2 separate regions of the Homo sapiens genome follow, and region 1 is linked to region 2. Evidence: fine-mapped expression QTL. Tissue or cell type: whole blood. Region 2 holds a variant in brackets; the other region holds the start of a gene. All regions are shown on one strand. Distances are from middle to middle.

Region 1 (8,000 bases), 27 kb before region 2:
AAACTGGTAAAAAGAAAAATACTCAGGTTCTACAAACGTCCCATAATTTGTCTTTAAATAGGCAGAAAAAATTTAAAAAAAAAGATGGAACTGTCTAAAAGGTCTTCAGCTACCTTGGCAGGTCAATTTAAAAACAAAAGGTTGATATACTATAAAATAAGATGCTTCGGTGCAGCTCCAAAAACCTTTATAAATACAGCCATTTGGAAGGACGATCCTGGATCAGAAATTATTCCTTGTGTATCTGGGAACAGCAAGAGGGGGAGAATTGTGATGTCATGAAGTAACAGCTGACAACATGCTCACCTCCTAGAGCTGATGAAGATGCTGAGGGTTGGACAACAGGGACACACCTTCATTTCCTCCATCCCACACAAGAGTAGAAGATTATAGGAGATGGGTTTTCAGATCCCACCCCCTAGCAAACTTGCTCTGATATGCACCTGAGAGCAAGGAAGGCCTAGCTAGGAATGTTTGGTAGGTTGGCTGGGTGAGGTATGAGGGCAGCAGAAATGCAGAGCAGTCTTGCCAGAAAAGGTGAGAGGGTCATGACAGAGTGTGACAAACAGGTTCACTCAATGCCGATATCCAAGTCTCACCTATATTATGTGCATGTCTCATTTCAGTTGTCATAATTGTCTCTGTAATTTCCTCCTGAGTAGCGGTCATAACCACCCTGGTTTCTGGGGGGGAAAAAAAACACACAAAAGTTTTCTGGTACTGCATTATATATACCACTGTAATTATATGCGTCACATTTTACAGTATGGGTCATAACATAAACCTTACGTATCAAAAACAGGATATGTTAAGCATATGAGTATCACAGTAAACAGTTTTATGGCATACGATTTATACGCAGTATATTAAATCATATTACATGTTAAAGCAATATAGTTATATAACCCACACAGCACAACATATATAGTATACTTTACCATGTCGCAACTATATGACTACACAATTAACTTAAAATGCTAAATTTCATACTCATTTTAGGTACACATTAGTAACAGCAAGGTGTGGTATGCATGAACACCCAGGCGCTGAGTTCTTAAGGAGAGGGAAGCAATAGGAGAACATCCCAGCCCTTTGGCTACCCACCTGCCATTATAGTCTCTGGAACGTCCATATCCATATCCATACCCTCCAGGTCGACTGTCATAATACCTGCCACTCCCATAGCCCTGGTCCCCACCACCTAGAGCAGAAAAATATTTAAATGGCAGTTGTCCACACATAGGCAACTCTCCCTCTCACCCCATGATCAAAACGATCACTGCACTCACCTCTAGAGTAGCTGCGACCACGCCCATGGGCCCCAAAGCCACCTCCTCTGGTTCCCCGAGCAGACTTGCCTGCATGATCCACACGGATCTGACGACCATCCAGAGACTAAGTGTGGGAGACACAAGGATGATGGGTTGGCAGTCAGTCAGGGCAATGGTGAGGGAAGAGCAGGCAAGGGTAAGTGGGCAAAAGAGGCCAAAAATTCCTGCTGGGCACCAGGTTCTGGGTGCCATGTTCCAGAATAAGCTCCTTTACCCCAGAATGGCTTCATCAGGAGCTATAGAATCCCACACAAAATGACCTGAATGCACCATGTTCCCCTTGCTACTACTTACATCTTGACTGAACTCAGGCTGAGTTCTCCTCCCCACTCCTCTAAGCTGCCCGACTATCAGGGCTAGACAGACACCTCTCTTGGTTTGAGGCTTCAGAGTCCATGTCAGAAGACTCACGAGGTCCTCTCCGGGCCAGGCCCACAGGTCTGCAGACTCTACTACCTAAGCCCAAGGCAGGTCAACCATCCACAGGTGGCTTCTCGGCCTCATGCAGGACCAGTCGTCGCCTCCCAGGCGGCCAGGCTCTGTCTGCCGCTGCCCTCCACCCCCTAGAACAAAAGGCAGTCATGCTCCTGTGAGTGGGCACTGCGGGGCTTGGTGGCCACGCTGCCCCGAGCAGACACAGAGGGAAAAACAAAAAGAATGAAGGAAGCCGCAGATGGGGACAAGGTCCCTCTGCAGATAGGAGGCCCCACCTCTCCGTTCATGGCTCTCATGGCAACTGAAGCATGCTCTGGGTTGGTGAAGGTGATGAAACCAAAACCCCTGGACCGCTGAGTCTCCCGGTCCTTGACAACGACCACTGTGAGAGGGAGAGAAGATGGAGCAATGTGGACCAGTCAGTACCCCAAAGGTTAAGTAGCAAAGGGTGGCCGGAAAAGGAGATGGCATAGGTAGGGAAAACGGAGCGCTCCCACTAATCCCAAAGACGCTTCCCCTCATCCTTAGTCTACACCATAGGCTTAGGAAGAAAAAGAATTTGGAGGCGTGGGTCCTAACTTTTCAGTTAATACTCCTTGAAATGCAAGGATCCCAGACTTTCTCTCACCAACCCCCATTGTGAGTATGGCCCGTCTCACCCTCAGAGATAGGTCCGAAACTGCTGAAGTGGTCTTCCAGTGCCTGCTCGTCGGTGTTAAAGTTGAGCCCTCCCACGAAGAGCTTTCCTTCTTCAGAGGACATGGCAGTTCAAGTCCTGTGGGAAGAACATGAAGAATGGTGGCAGGAAGGAGAAAGAAAATGGAGATGTGAGAAAATAGCGAGACGGAAAGCAGAGAAAAAGCACAGAAAATAGACAAGAAAGAGGAACAAAATATGGGTAACTACAGAAAAGCTGAGAAAGGCGGCCAATAAGGTGGTAATCTGAGGAGCTGGCTCAGCGCAGCCACCATTAGGGGGCCACATTGCGCATGCTCTCACATTCATAGCCGCCACGCCCGTCATTTTGTGCCACTGCGCAAGCCCAGAACATCCCTGCGTTCCCTTAACGCCGGCAGAACAAGATGGCGGCGGCCACGTGGGATAAGGAAAGTAAGTGTCGGCTGTCGCGTGGTCACTGCCACCACCGACGCCACCAGTCCCTCCCGGTAGGCCTCACACTCAGATACAGCGCGCCGGCCTCCCACCAACCGAAATGTTTCACCTCCAAGCACGGGACCCGCCCGTCCCAGAGAAAGCCAAGCCTACGTGTCAGTGGCCATTACTCTCCCCACTCGCTATTCCCCGGTCACGGCCGGCGCGGCGCGTGTGTGGCGAGGAGCCGCCGTTTCGCAGGACATATGCAACTTACCTGGAAATTAAAACGTAAAAAACCCGGACGAACAGCGAGCTCGGAGGAGCACAAAAAACAGGGACGGGGCTGCGCCGGAAGACGATTGATAAAGAGTACGTAGCGAGAACGTCCCGGAACGTTCCCCTTGCGCGTCCCGGCGTGCGTGCTGATTGGCTGAGGCCAGCAGGAGCGGAGTGGTGGGGAGAGGAAGGGACAGCAAAGCGAAGGGAGCAGTGTTCTCCGCGAAATGGGGTGTTTCCGGAAATGGGGTGTTTCCGGAAATGGGGTCGACTTTTGAACAGCTGGTGCACCCTAAACGTCAGCATCCCCCCCACAACCGGCTGAGCTGCCTTTATCCCTTCCACAAAGGAACCTTCTCAATCTCATACTACTTGCTGTCCCTGACATCATCCTCCCGTCCTTGCCATCATTTCCCCCGCTGGATCGGATGTCTTCCTCACCATCGTAGTCGTCTTCCTCTAGGTCCCTGCCATTCTCTGATGTTAACCTCCTTCACCTTCTAGTTCTTTAACCTCATACCCTTTAAAGGCCTGACATTTTATCCCCCACCGTCACTGATGTCATCACCCTTCACAGTCCATGATGTCAGACCCAACGTTTTAAGGTTTGACCCTGACTCCTACTCTTTCTCCTCTGTGCTCAACATCTAGCCGCCTGTCATGGGACCCTTTTCCCTGGCGTCATTCCATCTCATCTCTGACTTCAGCCCTCACCCTTGTCTGACTGCTGGCGTGAAGCCAGCCCCTTAATTTTCTCACCAATAGACTGCCTGAGATGGCTTTTACAAAACAGGATGCTGGCCGGGCGCGGTGGCTCACGCCTGTATTCCCAGCACTTTGGGAGGCCAAAGCGGGCGGTTCACGAGTTCAGGAGTTCGAGACCTGCATGGCCAACATGGTGAAACCCCATCTCTACTAAAAATACAAAAAAAAAAAAAAAAAAAAAAAAAGAAAAAAAAAATTAGCTGGGTGTGGTGGCACGTGCCTGTAGTCCCACCTACTCGGGAGGCTGAGGCTGGAAAATCGCTTGAACCCGGGAGGCGGAGGTTGCAGTGAGCCGAGACCACGCCATTGCACTCCAGCCTGGGTGAAAACAAAACAAAACAAAAGAGGATGCTACGATCTTCAGAGGTTGTAAATCCCAATCCATAGAGCAATTTTTGCTCTCTTCGAAAGTAACTGAGCCCTTGCCGGGCGCAGTGGCTCATGCCTGTAATCCCAGCACTTTGGGAGGCCGAAGTGGGCAGATCACAAGGTCAGGAGTTCAAGACTACCCTGGCCAATATGGTGAAACCCTGTCTCTACTAACAATACAAAAAAAAAAAAAAATTAGCCGGGCGTGGTGGTAGGCACCTGTAGTCCCAGCTACTCAGGAGGCTGAGGCGGGATAATCGCTTGAACCCGGGAGGTGGAGGTTGCAGTGAGCTGAGATCATGCCACTGCACTCCAGCTTGGGCGACAGAGCAAGACTCAGTCTCAAAAAAAAAAAAAAAGTAACTGAGCCCTTGATTCACAGAAGGGACTTTCGCAATACACAATAGACTTATCCCAATCAAGTAGTGTCTGAGCCCACTGTTCACAATTTAGTCTTCAGTGTCTTGGCCACCTTTACAATAAATGGATTTGACAGATTTTTCACTTCTGAGCGCCACATCAACGAAGAATAAGTTAGTTTGCCCTCAGAGGCTAAATTTCTTATCCATAGAATGAATTTGCCCAACACAGACCAAATTTGCTAACATACAGAATACAGTACATCCATATTCCTGTTGGGGTAATTCCCATATTTATCTTCCTGTTATTGTCAGGGATTCCTCACATAGTCTAATTATTAATCCCTTAGGTGTTGGAAATAGCCTCTCCAGCTCTGGCATTTGTGTTATTAACTTTGTAAGCAGTAAACTTAGTTGAATAAAGATCCATAATTTTGATATAATCATTTTTCCCCCTATGTTCTGTGCTTTTTTCTGAGACGGAGTCTCACTCTGTCGCTCAGGCTGGAGTGCAGTGGCATGATCTCAGCTCACTGCAACCTCCGCCTCCCAGGTTCAAGTGATTCTCCTGCTTTAGTCTCCTGAGTAGCTGGGATTACGGGCATGTGCCACTATGCCCAGCTAATTTTTGTATTTTTAGTAGAGATGAGGTTTCACCATGTTGTTCAGGCTGTTCTCAAACTCCTGACTTCATGATCCGCCTGCCTCGGCCTCCCAAAGTGCTGGGATTACAGGCGTGAGCCACCACGCCCGGCCTGGTCTGTGCTTTTAAAGAAATCATTCTCTTTCCCAGGTCACAAAATGTTCCCCTACAGTTTCTTTCTTTCTTTCTTTTTTTTTTTTTTTGACAGAGTTTCGCTCTTGTTGCCCAGGCTGGAGTGCAATGGCACTATCTCGGCTCACTGCAACCTCCGCCTCCTGGGTTCAAGCAATTCTCCTGCCTCAGCCTGCTGCGTAGCTAGGATTACAGGTGTGTGCCACCACACCTGGCTAATTTTTGCATTTTTAGTAGAGACAGGTTTTTGCCATGTTGGCCAGGCTGGTCTTGAACTCCTGGCCTCAAGTGATTCGCCTGCCTCGGCCTCCCAAAGTGCTGGGATTACAGGCATGAGCCACCGCACCCGGCCACATTTAGGTCTTTAATCCATGTAGAGTTCGTCCTTGTATATGGTGTGAGATAGAGCTCCAATTTTATTTTTCTCTGTGTCATGAGCCAGATGCCCCATCACCATCTATTAAGCAATCTGTCCCATCCCTGTGTGTGTTTTACCACCTCTATCATGTATCAAGTTCCATAGATATATGGGTCTGTCTCTGAGGTGGTTTGTTGCTGGTTTTGTTGTTATTGTTGTTTTTAAGAGATGAGCCCAGGCTGACTCCTGGCCTCAAGCATTCTCCCCAACTCAGCCTCCTGAGTAACTGGGATTACAGGGGAGCACTATTGTACCTGACTTCTGAGCTTTTTTTTTTTTTTTGACAGAGTCTCACTCTGTCGCCAGGCTGGAGTGCAGTGGCGCGATCTTGGCTCACTGCAACCTCCGCCTCCTGGGTTCAAGTGATTTTCCTGCCTCAGCCTCCTGAGTAGCTGGGACTACAGGCGCGTGCAACCACGCCCAGCTAATTTTTGTATTTTTAGTAGAGATGGGGTTTCACCATGTTGGCCAGGATGGTCTTTTTTTTTGAGACGGAGTCTCGCTCTGTCGCTCAGGCTGGAGTGCAGTGGCGCGATCTCGGCTCACTGTAAGCTCTGCCTTCCAGGTTCACGCCTCAGCCTCCCGAGTAGCTGGGACTACAGGCGCCTGCTACCGCACCCAGCCAATTTTTTTTTTTTGTATTTTTTAGTAGAGGCGGGGTTTCACCGTGGTCTGGATCTCCTGACCTTGTGATCTGCCCACCTCGGCCTCCAAAAGTGCTGGTATTACAGGTGTGAGCCACCGTGCCCGGCCTTCTCTTCTAATTGGTCTACTTCTTAGCTCTTGGGCCAATATAGGTTTGTTGTTGTTTTTTTTTTCCCTTTTATTACTAACACCTTTAATATGTCTTAATATCTAGTGGGCAAATCCCCATCATAACGCTTTCTTTGAAGGCTGTCTTAACTGTCCATGATTCATTACTATTCTAAATTCTAATGTAAGTGTATTGCAGTTCTAACAAAAAGAAGTAATGAGGTCAGGCATGGTGGCTCTCGCCCAAATCCCAGCTACCTGGGAGGCTGAGGCAGGAGGATCGCTTGAACCCAGGAGTTGGAGTCTGCAGTGAGCTATGATCGTGCCACTGCACTCCAGCCTGGGCAACAAAGTGAGACCCTGTTTCAAAACATTAAAAAAAAAAGTAATGGAAGTGTTATTGAGAGTGCATTGAATTTTTACATTTTGGGAGAAATAACGTCTTTTTTTTTGAGATGGAGTTTCGCTCTTGTTGCCCAGGCTGGAGTAAAATGGTGCAATCTCGGCTCACTGCAACCTCCGCCTCCCGGGTTCAAGCAATTCTCCTGCTTCAGCCTCCTGGGTAGCTGGAACTACAGGCACCCACCATTATGCTCGGCTAATTTTGTATTTTTAGCAGAGACGGGGTTTGTCTATGTTGGTCAGGCTGGTCTCAAACTCCTGACCTCAGGTGATCCACCCACCTCGGCCTCCCAAAGTGCTGGGATTACAGGTGTGAGCCACCATGCCCGGCCAAAATAACATCTTAATAATATTAACTGTGGAGGTTTTAAGATATGGTCACACTCTGATACTGTACTCGTCAAGAGTTGGAGCCTAACTTCCTTCCACTTGCATGTGTGCTGGACTTAGTGACTCAATTGTAAAGCACAGAATGAGGTGGAAGTGATAGTGTGTCATTTCCAAGACCAGGCTGTAAAAGGCACATCTGCTTCATGCTCTCTGTCACACAGACTGCTCATTATGTGGGACATTAGCTGGTATGTCATGAGCAGCCCTATGGAGGGATCTAGGTGGCAAGAAAGTAAGGCCTCTTGCCAACAGCCATGTGAGCAAGCCTTCTTAAAGGTGGATCCCAGCCTTCAGATAACTGCAGTCCTGGCCAACATCCTGATTGTAGCCTCATGAGAGGCTCTGAGTCAGAACCACCCAGTTAAGCCACTCTCAGAATCCTGACTCTCCAAAACCATGTGAAATAATAAATGTGTATTGTTTTAGCCACTAAGTTTTGGGATAATTTGTTAAAAATAACTTATATATTACCAAAATCTTTCCAGCAAAGAGCATAAAATGTCTCTCTTTTATTCAGATCAATTTCTATTGTTAGAGTTTAAATTCTTTAAAATAGAGGTCTCTTGTATTAAATTCATTCCTACTTTTTTTTTTTGTTGGTTATTGCTGCTATACAGAAATGCTTTTGATTT
Region 2 (8,262 bases):
TCCAGCCTGGGCGACAGAGCGAGACTCCATCTCAAAAAAAAAAAAAAATTTGACCACAAAACCACTGTCATAAAAATAACATGGTGTTAGCACAGCAGTAGACAAATAGAGCCCATTGGTAGAATGCAATAGAAAGCCCAGAAATAAATCCAAGCTTGTATATATGGAAACTGAATATGTGACAAACGTGGCATTTCGAATCACTGCAGAAAAGGTGATTATTTAATAAATGATGCTGGCAGGCCGGGCGCAGTGGCTCATGCCTGTAATCTCAGCACTTTGGGAGGCTGAAGTGGGTGGATCACCTGAGGTCATAAGTTCGACACCAACCTGGCCAACATGGCAAAACCTCATCTCTACTAAAAATACAAAAATTAGCTAGGCATGGTGGCGGGCACCTGTAATCCCAGCTATTTGGGAGGCTGAGTCAGGAGAATTGCTTGAACCCAGGAGACGGCGGCTGCAGTGAGCTGAGATTGTGCAACTGCACTCCTGCCTGGGCGATAAGAGTAAAACTTCGTCTCAAAAAAAAAAATTAAATTAAAAAAAATGATGCTGGCATAATTGACTATCTTGATTTTTTTAAAGCTAGGTCTGCTTATCACAATGCTGACAGAGAAAAGATTTATATGTAAAAAAGAAAACAATAAGCATAGTAGAAGAAAATATAGAATATTTGTATAAGCTTATGGATGGGGAACATGTTCCAAAGTAATAGGAGAAACTCAGCCAGGCACAGTGGCTCATGCCTGTAATCCCACCACTTTGGGAGGCCCAGGCAGGTGGATCACTTGAGATCAGGAATTCGATACCAGCCTGACCAACATGGTGAAACTCCATCTCTACTAAAAATACAAAAGTAGCCAGGTGTAGTGGCACATGCCTGTAATCCCAGCTACTTGGGAGGCTGAGGCAGGAGAATCACTTGAACCCAGGAGGCGGAGGTTGCAGTGAGCCGAGATCGCGCCATCGCACTCCAGCCTGGGCAATGAGAGTGAAACTCTGTCCCTCCACCTGCAATAAAAAGGAGAAACTCAGAAATCATAAAGAAAAAGATAGATATCTGTGTAGGCGTGCAATCAAATGTTTAATTTTGATAGGACAAAACAGATCCATCCCGTAAGCAAAGCCAAAAAACAAAAGATCAACTGGGAAAAATATTTGCAGTACCTATGATAGAAAGGAGGTTGGGGGCTGGGCACGGTGGCTCCCGCCTGTAATCCAAACACTTTGAGAGGCCGAGGTGGGTGGATCACTTGAGGTCAGAAGTTCGAGACCAGCCTGGCCAACATGGCAAAACCATGTCTCTACAAAAAATACAAAAATTAGCTGGGCATGGTGGTGCACACCTGTAGTCCCAGCTACTTGAAAGCCTGAGGCAGGAGGAGAGCTTGAGGTCAAGGCTGCAGTGGGCCATATTTGCGTCACTGCATTCCAGCCTTGGTGACAAAGAGAGTCTCAAAAAGAAAAAAGATTCATATCGGAAAAGTACAAATTGGTCAAAGGTCTAGGCTTTGTAATCTCCCAACTGTAGAGGTGACAGAAACTGGCTTTTTCCCAGAAAGAGGGACTGGGCCATCCAAACAGTCCCAACATGTCTGTTGCTTTCACAGCCATGAAAATGATCATGAGAATGCCATTAATATGTCTAATGATAGCTCCATATATTGGACACTTACATATTAATGTGTAGAATACCTTATGTTAAACACATACCGTTTATGTGTACAGACACGCAAATATGAATATACTCACATATGTGGATAAATGTGTGTGTAGGGAGTGTAAATAAGTAAAGGACATGCAAAGTTACACATCAAACCGATTCCCTCGGGGCAAAAAGGGTAGGGTAGGGGATTGAGATTAGGCATAGCGTTCCCAGGAGACTTCAGCATTATTTAAAATGCTTTTATTTTTAATAAGAATGTATTTACTGGGTAATGAAAGATTAGTTTCTCTTAAAAATATGACTCCAATCAAATTCCCGTCAGGATTTTAATGGAATAATAAGCTGATTTATTAAATAAAAAGAACAGTAAGTGAACAAGAATATTCAAGAAAATTTTTTAAAAAGGAAAACATGAAAACATATCATAAAACTATAATGATTAAGGCTGGGTGCGGTGGCTCTTGCTTGTAATCCCAGCACTTTGGGAGGCTGAGGCGGGCAGACTGCTTGAGTCCAGGAGTTCAAGACCAGCCTGGGCAACACGGCGAAACCCTGTCTCTACAAAAAATACAAAAATTAGCTGGGCATGGGGGCATGTGCCTATAGGCCCAGCTACTCAGGAGGCTGACGTGGGACAATTGCTTGAGCCTGGGAGGTGGAGGCTGCAGTGAGCTGAGATTGGGCCACTGCACTCCAGCAAGGATGACAGAGTGAGACCCTGTCTCAAAAAAAAAACAAAAAAAAAACCCTCAAAACCAAACAAACAAACAGAAAACAAACTACTACAATGATTAAAACAACATAGAATTGGCTTATAATTTAATAAATAGATCAACGTAAGAGAATCAGGAATTCAGAAACAGACCGATGTTGTGCAGGAATTTGGTAAATAAGACAGAGGGCTTTTTTTTTTTTTTTTTTGAGATGGAGTCTAGTTCTGTCACTCAGGCTGGAGTGCGGTGGCACGAGCTCGGATCATTGCAACCTCCGCCTCCCAGGCTCAAGCAATTCTCCTGCCTCAGTCTCCCGAGTAGCTGGGATTACAGGCGCCTACCACCACGCCCGGCTAATTTCTGTATTTTTAGTAGAGACAGGGTTTCGCCATGTTTGGCCAGGCTGGTCTCGAACTCCTGACCTCAGGTGATCCACCCGCCTCGGCCTCCCAAAGTGCTGGGATTACAGGCGTGAGCCACGGCGCCTGGCCTAAAAAGATAACCTTTTAAAGATGTATTCCTGCCAGACTACTGGGTGTCTTTCTGTCTGTCTCTCTGCTTTACTGGCATTCGTCCCAGTTCTCATGCACTTGGGGTTTTCTCCACATGTTTCGTAGCCATGCAGATTTGATTTTTTTCCTGAAATAGTGCTACTGTGTCTCTTTAACAGGTGAGGAAAACAAGGCCCAGGGAATTAAGTGACTGACATAAGCACATATGGCTACTCAGTGGCAGAGGTTCCTGTGTGTCTGGCTACCTGGCTTTTCCTATTTGGCTTCCTGCCCATCTCTGTCACTATCTTTCCCTCTGACTCTTGTTTCTCTCTCTCCTCTGTCTCTCTTTTGCAAAGCTGCCAATTTTAACAAGTCCAAAATGTTGTAGAGTTAAATGGTTAAGAACAAGGACTCTGGAGCCAGTTCAGCCACTGCCTGAGTTCAAATCTTGCTCTTCAACTTACTGTCTGTATAACTGGGACGAGTCCTGTCACCTCTCTGAGCCTCAGTTTCCTCATCTATAATATGGGGAAAATGATTGTCCCTACTCTATAGGATTATTTTGACAATTCAGTGAAAAAATATTATGTGCACAGAATGGCCCTAAGTGTTCACTACACATTAGCTAGTTATATGTTATTATGACATCAATAAAGTGCTCGACTCATCCCAAATGGGCACATGAGTTTCCTGAGGCTGGGAACCACATCTTCCACTCCACAACTATTTAAAACAATTTTGAACCTACAATAAAGTTAAAAGAATACACTGAACACCCATACATACTTCATCTAGATCCTCTATTAACATTTTTTTGGGCCACATTTGCTTTATCTCACTCTCTCTGTATATAAACACATTATTTTTGCCAACTTATTTGCAGACATCATGACATTTTACCCCTTCATACTTAACTGTGTCTTTCCCAAGAACAAGGATATTTTCCTTCAATAGATATGATACCACTACCACACTGCTATGGTTTGAATGTGTCCTTCCAAATTCATGTGTTGCAATTTAATTACCAATGTGATCATATTAAGAGGTGGGGGCCTTTAAGAGGTGATTAAGTCCTGAGGGTAGAGCTCTCACAGATGGGATTAGGGCTCTTTTTTTATTTTTTATTTTATTTATTTTTTGAGATGGAGTCTTGCTCTGTTGCCCAGGCTGGAGTGCAGTGGTGCGATCTTGGCTCACTGCAAGCTCCGCCTCCCGGGTTCATGCCATTCTCCTGCCTCAGCCTCCCGAGTAGCTGGGACTACAGGCACCCGCCACCACGCCCGGCTATTTTTTTGTATTTTTAGTAAAGACAGGGTTTCACCGTGTTAGCCAGGGTGGTCTCGATCTCCTGACCTTGTGATCTGCCCGCCTCGGCCTCCTAAACTGCTGGGATTACAGGCGTGAGCCACCGTGCTCAGCCTCTTTTTTTTTTTTTTTTTGAGATGAAGTCTCGCTCTGTCACCCAGGCTGGAGTGCAGTGGCAAGATCTTGGCTCACTGCAACCTCTGCTTTTCGGGTTCAAGCGATTCTCATGCCTCAGCCTCCCGAGTAGCTGGGATTATAGGCATGTGCCACTACACCCGGCTAATTTTTGTATTTTTTTTAGTAGAGACAGGGTTTCACCATGTTGGCCAGGATGGTCTCGAACTCCTGACTTCAGGTGATCCGCCTGCCTCAGCCTCCCAAAGTGCTGGGACTACAGGCATGAGCCACCGTGCCCAGCGGATTTGGGCTCTTATAAAGAGGTTGAGGGTGTGGGTTCACTCTCTTCTGCTCTTCTGTCATGTGAGGATGCAGCAAGAAAGCCCTCACTAGACACACAACCTGCCAGCACCTTGATCTTGGACTTCCCAGTCTCCAAAACTGTGAGAAATAAATTTCTCTTCTTTACAAATTCCTCAGTCTGTGGTATTCTGTTATAGTAGCACAAAACGACTAAGACACACACCCAGGAAATTTAATACTGATACAATTATCTAATGTATGGTCTGTAATCAAATTTTGAGACCACGTCCTAATTTATCTGTGTGCT[C/T]GCAGGGACCAGAATAGGCAAGAGTGGAAGAACAAAGATGAGAAGAGAAAAAGTGGCTGAGAGGTCAAGGGAACAAATGAATGAGTGAGCAAGAATACAAACAAATGAATATGGGTGCAGAATGACTGAATGAATAAACACAACTAGCATTATTATAATACGCATTGTTATATTTAGGTATTATAACTGAAATACATAATGCTAAAGCTATACCGTTATACTATATTATAAATCTGCATTATATCTAATTATTACATACATTACTCGGTTATATGTTATAATAGTATAATACAATATAATTATCATTATTAGAGATAACACTTTCTGAGCCTTCATTATGCAGTCATGCACTGTTCCAGGCATTTTATATGAATTTCCCCTCACAATGGTTCTAAGATACAAGGCCTCACAATGGTTCTAAGATACAATTATCTCTTTACAAGTGAAGAAATTGTGGCCTAGTGGCTGAGCCAGGATCTATAGCTAGGATACCTTGCTACCCATCCCACCATGAGGGAGTGTACTGTGAGGGGTAGCATCACCCTATGGGGTAAAGGGGTTCCAGAGCAGTGCTCCTGGGGGCACTGAGTACTCACTGTCCTCCGAGGGCCGAATATCTACACGCAATTGCAGGTAAGGTTTGGAGGCAGTGGCAAAGGCTGTGCTGAGGTCCCAGTCAGATAGAAGTGAGAGGTAAACTTCCTGTCCTAGCCGGTCCCGGCCCAGGTAGCTGATGCCAAAGTTCTTCTTCCTGGACAGGGGATACGAGGGAGCTCTCAGGGCCCCTGGTGCCCTGGAGGCCTCAGGGACAGTTTCCAAAACAAGGAGGGTAATATAGAAGGCGTTGAAAACAACTTCCTACTATGTGCAAGGTACTGTGCCAAGGATTATGGGCAGCCTGAGATCAGGTCATTTATACCCACTTTGTTACACAAACACATACAAGCAGGTACACACCTGCTTGTATCTGGAGGTCACATTGGAAACTGGTAAAATGTTGGCCGGGTGCAGTGGCTCACGCCTATAATCTCCGCACTTTGGGAGGCCGAGGTGGGTGGATCACCTGAGGTCAGGAGTTTGAGACTAGCCTGGTCAACATGGTGAAACCCCTTCTGTACTAAAAATACAAAAAAAATTAGCTGGGTGTGGTGGCAGGTGCCTGTAATCCCAGCTACTCAGGAGGCTGAGGCAGGAGAATCGCTTGAACCTGGGAGGTGGAGGTTGCAGTGAGCCAAGATTGTGGCATTGCACTCCAACCTGGGTGACAGAGCAAGACTCCATCTCAAAAAAAAAAAAAAAAGTTGGTCCCCTCTGGGGTAGATGTGGGACAGAAGTGGGAAGAAAGCAGCCTTCTTACTACATAAAAAAAAAGCAATCTGTGTTTGTTATTTTTCACAACAAAAATGTTTATGTAAGAAAGTCTAATAACAACTAAGAATTTTTCAGCTATACTTGTGCAACTATGTAAAGAAGTTTGTTGCGTGATGCTCATCATAACCATGGAAACATCCTAAATACCCAACAATTGTGTACTGTTTGAATTTCTTACCATGTGTATGTATTCCTCCAAAATCACAACAAAATGACTATCACATCTGCCCCCAAGAGACACCACTTTTCAGCTATCAGATTGGCAAATTTTGCAGTTTTACAGTAACCAATGTTTGCGAGGGTGTGAGGGAAACAGGCATTTATGTGCTGCTGATGAGATCATAAATTCGTTTTTTTTTTTTTTTGAGACGGAGTCTCACTCTGTCGCCCAGTCTGGAGTGCAATGGTGCGATCTCGGCTCGCTGCAAGCTCCGCCTCCCGGGCCCATGCCATTCTCCTGCCTCAGCCTCCCAAGTAGCTGGGACTACAGGCGCCCACCACCACGCCTGGAGAATTTTTTGTATTTTTAGTAGAGACGGAGTTTCACCGTGTTAGCCAGGATGGTCTTGATCTCCTGACCTCGTGATCCACCTGCCTCAGCCTCCCAAAGTGCTGGGATTACAGGCATGAGCCACAGCGCCCGGCTGAGATCATAAATTGATAAAACCTGTCTGGAGAGCATTTTGGAAACACCCATTAATAGTTCAAAAAGCAGGCCAGGTGCGGTGGCTCATGCCTGTAATCCCAGCACTTTGGGAGGCTGAGGCGGGTGGATCACGAGGTCAGGAGATCGAGACGATCCTGGCCAACACGGTGAAACCCCATCTCTACTAAAAATACAAAAATTAGCCGGGCATGGTGGCGCACGCCTGTAGTACCAGCTACTCAGGAGGCCGAGGCAGGAGAATTGCTTGAACTCAGGAGGTGGAGGTTGCAATGAGACGAGATCACACCACTGCACTCCAGCCTGGACGACAGAATGAGACTGTCTCAAAAAAAAAATTTTTTTTAAAGCAAATACCCTTTTACCTGGCAATACCACTGCTAGGAATTTATCCTATGACTAGATGTTTCCAAATACAGTAGTCCCTCTTTATCTACAGGGGATACATTCCAAGACCCCCCCGAGTGGATGCCTGAAACTGCAGATAGTACCAAGCCCTATATATACTATGTTTTTTTTCATATACATACATACCTATGATAAGGTTTAATTGATAAATTAGGCACAGTAAGAGATTAACAATAATAGAACAATTATGACAATACAGATGCTTCTTGACTTATGACAGGGTTATGTACCAATAAACTCATCGTAAGTTGGAAATACTGTAAGTTGACAATGCATTTGGCTGGGCGCAGTGGCTCACCTGTAATCCCAGCACTTTGAGAGGCTGAGGCGGGCGGATTGCTTGAGCTCAGGAGTTTGAGACTGCCCTGGGCAACATGGCGAAACCCTGTCTCTACTAAAGATACAAAAAATTGGCCGGGTGCGGAGGCTCACGTGCCTGTAATCCTAACACTTTGGGAGGCCGAGGTGGGCGGATCACTTGAGATCAGGAGTTTGAGACCAGCCTGACCAACCTCATGAAAATTAGCTGAGTGTGGTGGTGCACACCTGTAATCCCAGCTACTCTGGAGGCTGAGGCATGAGAATCACTTGAACCCGGGAGGCAAAGGCTGCAATGAGCCAACATCGGACCACTGCACTCCAACCTAAGTGACAGAGTGAGACTCTGTCTCCAAAAAAAAAAAAAAGAGAAGATCAAAAAACTATCTGGGACTGGGTGCGGGGGCTTACACCTGTAATCCTAGCACTTTGGGAGGCCGAGGTGGACAGGTAACTTGAGGTCAGGTGTTCGAGACTAGCCTGACCAACATGGTGAAACCTTGTCTCTAATAAAAATACAAAAATTAGCAGGCGTGGTGGTGCGTGCCTGTAATCCCAGCTACTTGGGAGGCTGAGGCAGGAGAATCACTTGA

Evidence for each region. PIP is the estimated chance that this variant, and not a neighbour inherited with it, causes the effect.
Region 1: it holds the start of RBM3, and the variant in region 2 is fine-mapped to the expression of RBM3 in whole blood (TOPMed, PIP above 0.99).

What each region holds. Positions count from the first base shown.
Region 1 is chrX:48,569,709-48,577,708 of GRCh38, reverse strand. It overlaps RBM3 (RNA binding motif protein 3), which reads right to left and starts at 3,225. Exons shown (of 7, transcript NM_006743.5): 1 at 3,136-3,225; 2 at 2,426-2,541; 3 at 2,042-2,148; 4 at 1,290-1,395; 5 at 1,105-1,201; 6 at 600-683; 7 at 1-244. The coding sequence starts at 2,528. The coding sequence ends at 623. RefSeq lists enhancers at 2,898-3,167, 2,151-3,350 and a cis regulatory region at 3,107-4,092.
Region 2 is chrX:48,542,266-48,550,527 of GRCh38, reverse strand. TBC1D25 (TBC1 domain family member 25) reads right to left here. Exons shown (of 6, transcript NM_002536.4): 3 at 5,505-5,659. Among named protein-coding and RNA genes, the nearest start is that of TBC1D25, 6.7 kb to the right of the region's middle. The variant C/T (reference allele first, on the strand shown) is at 4,909.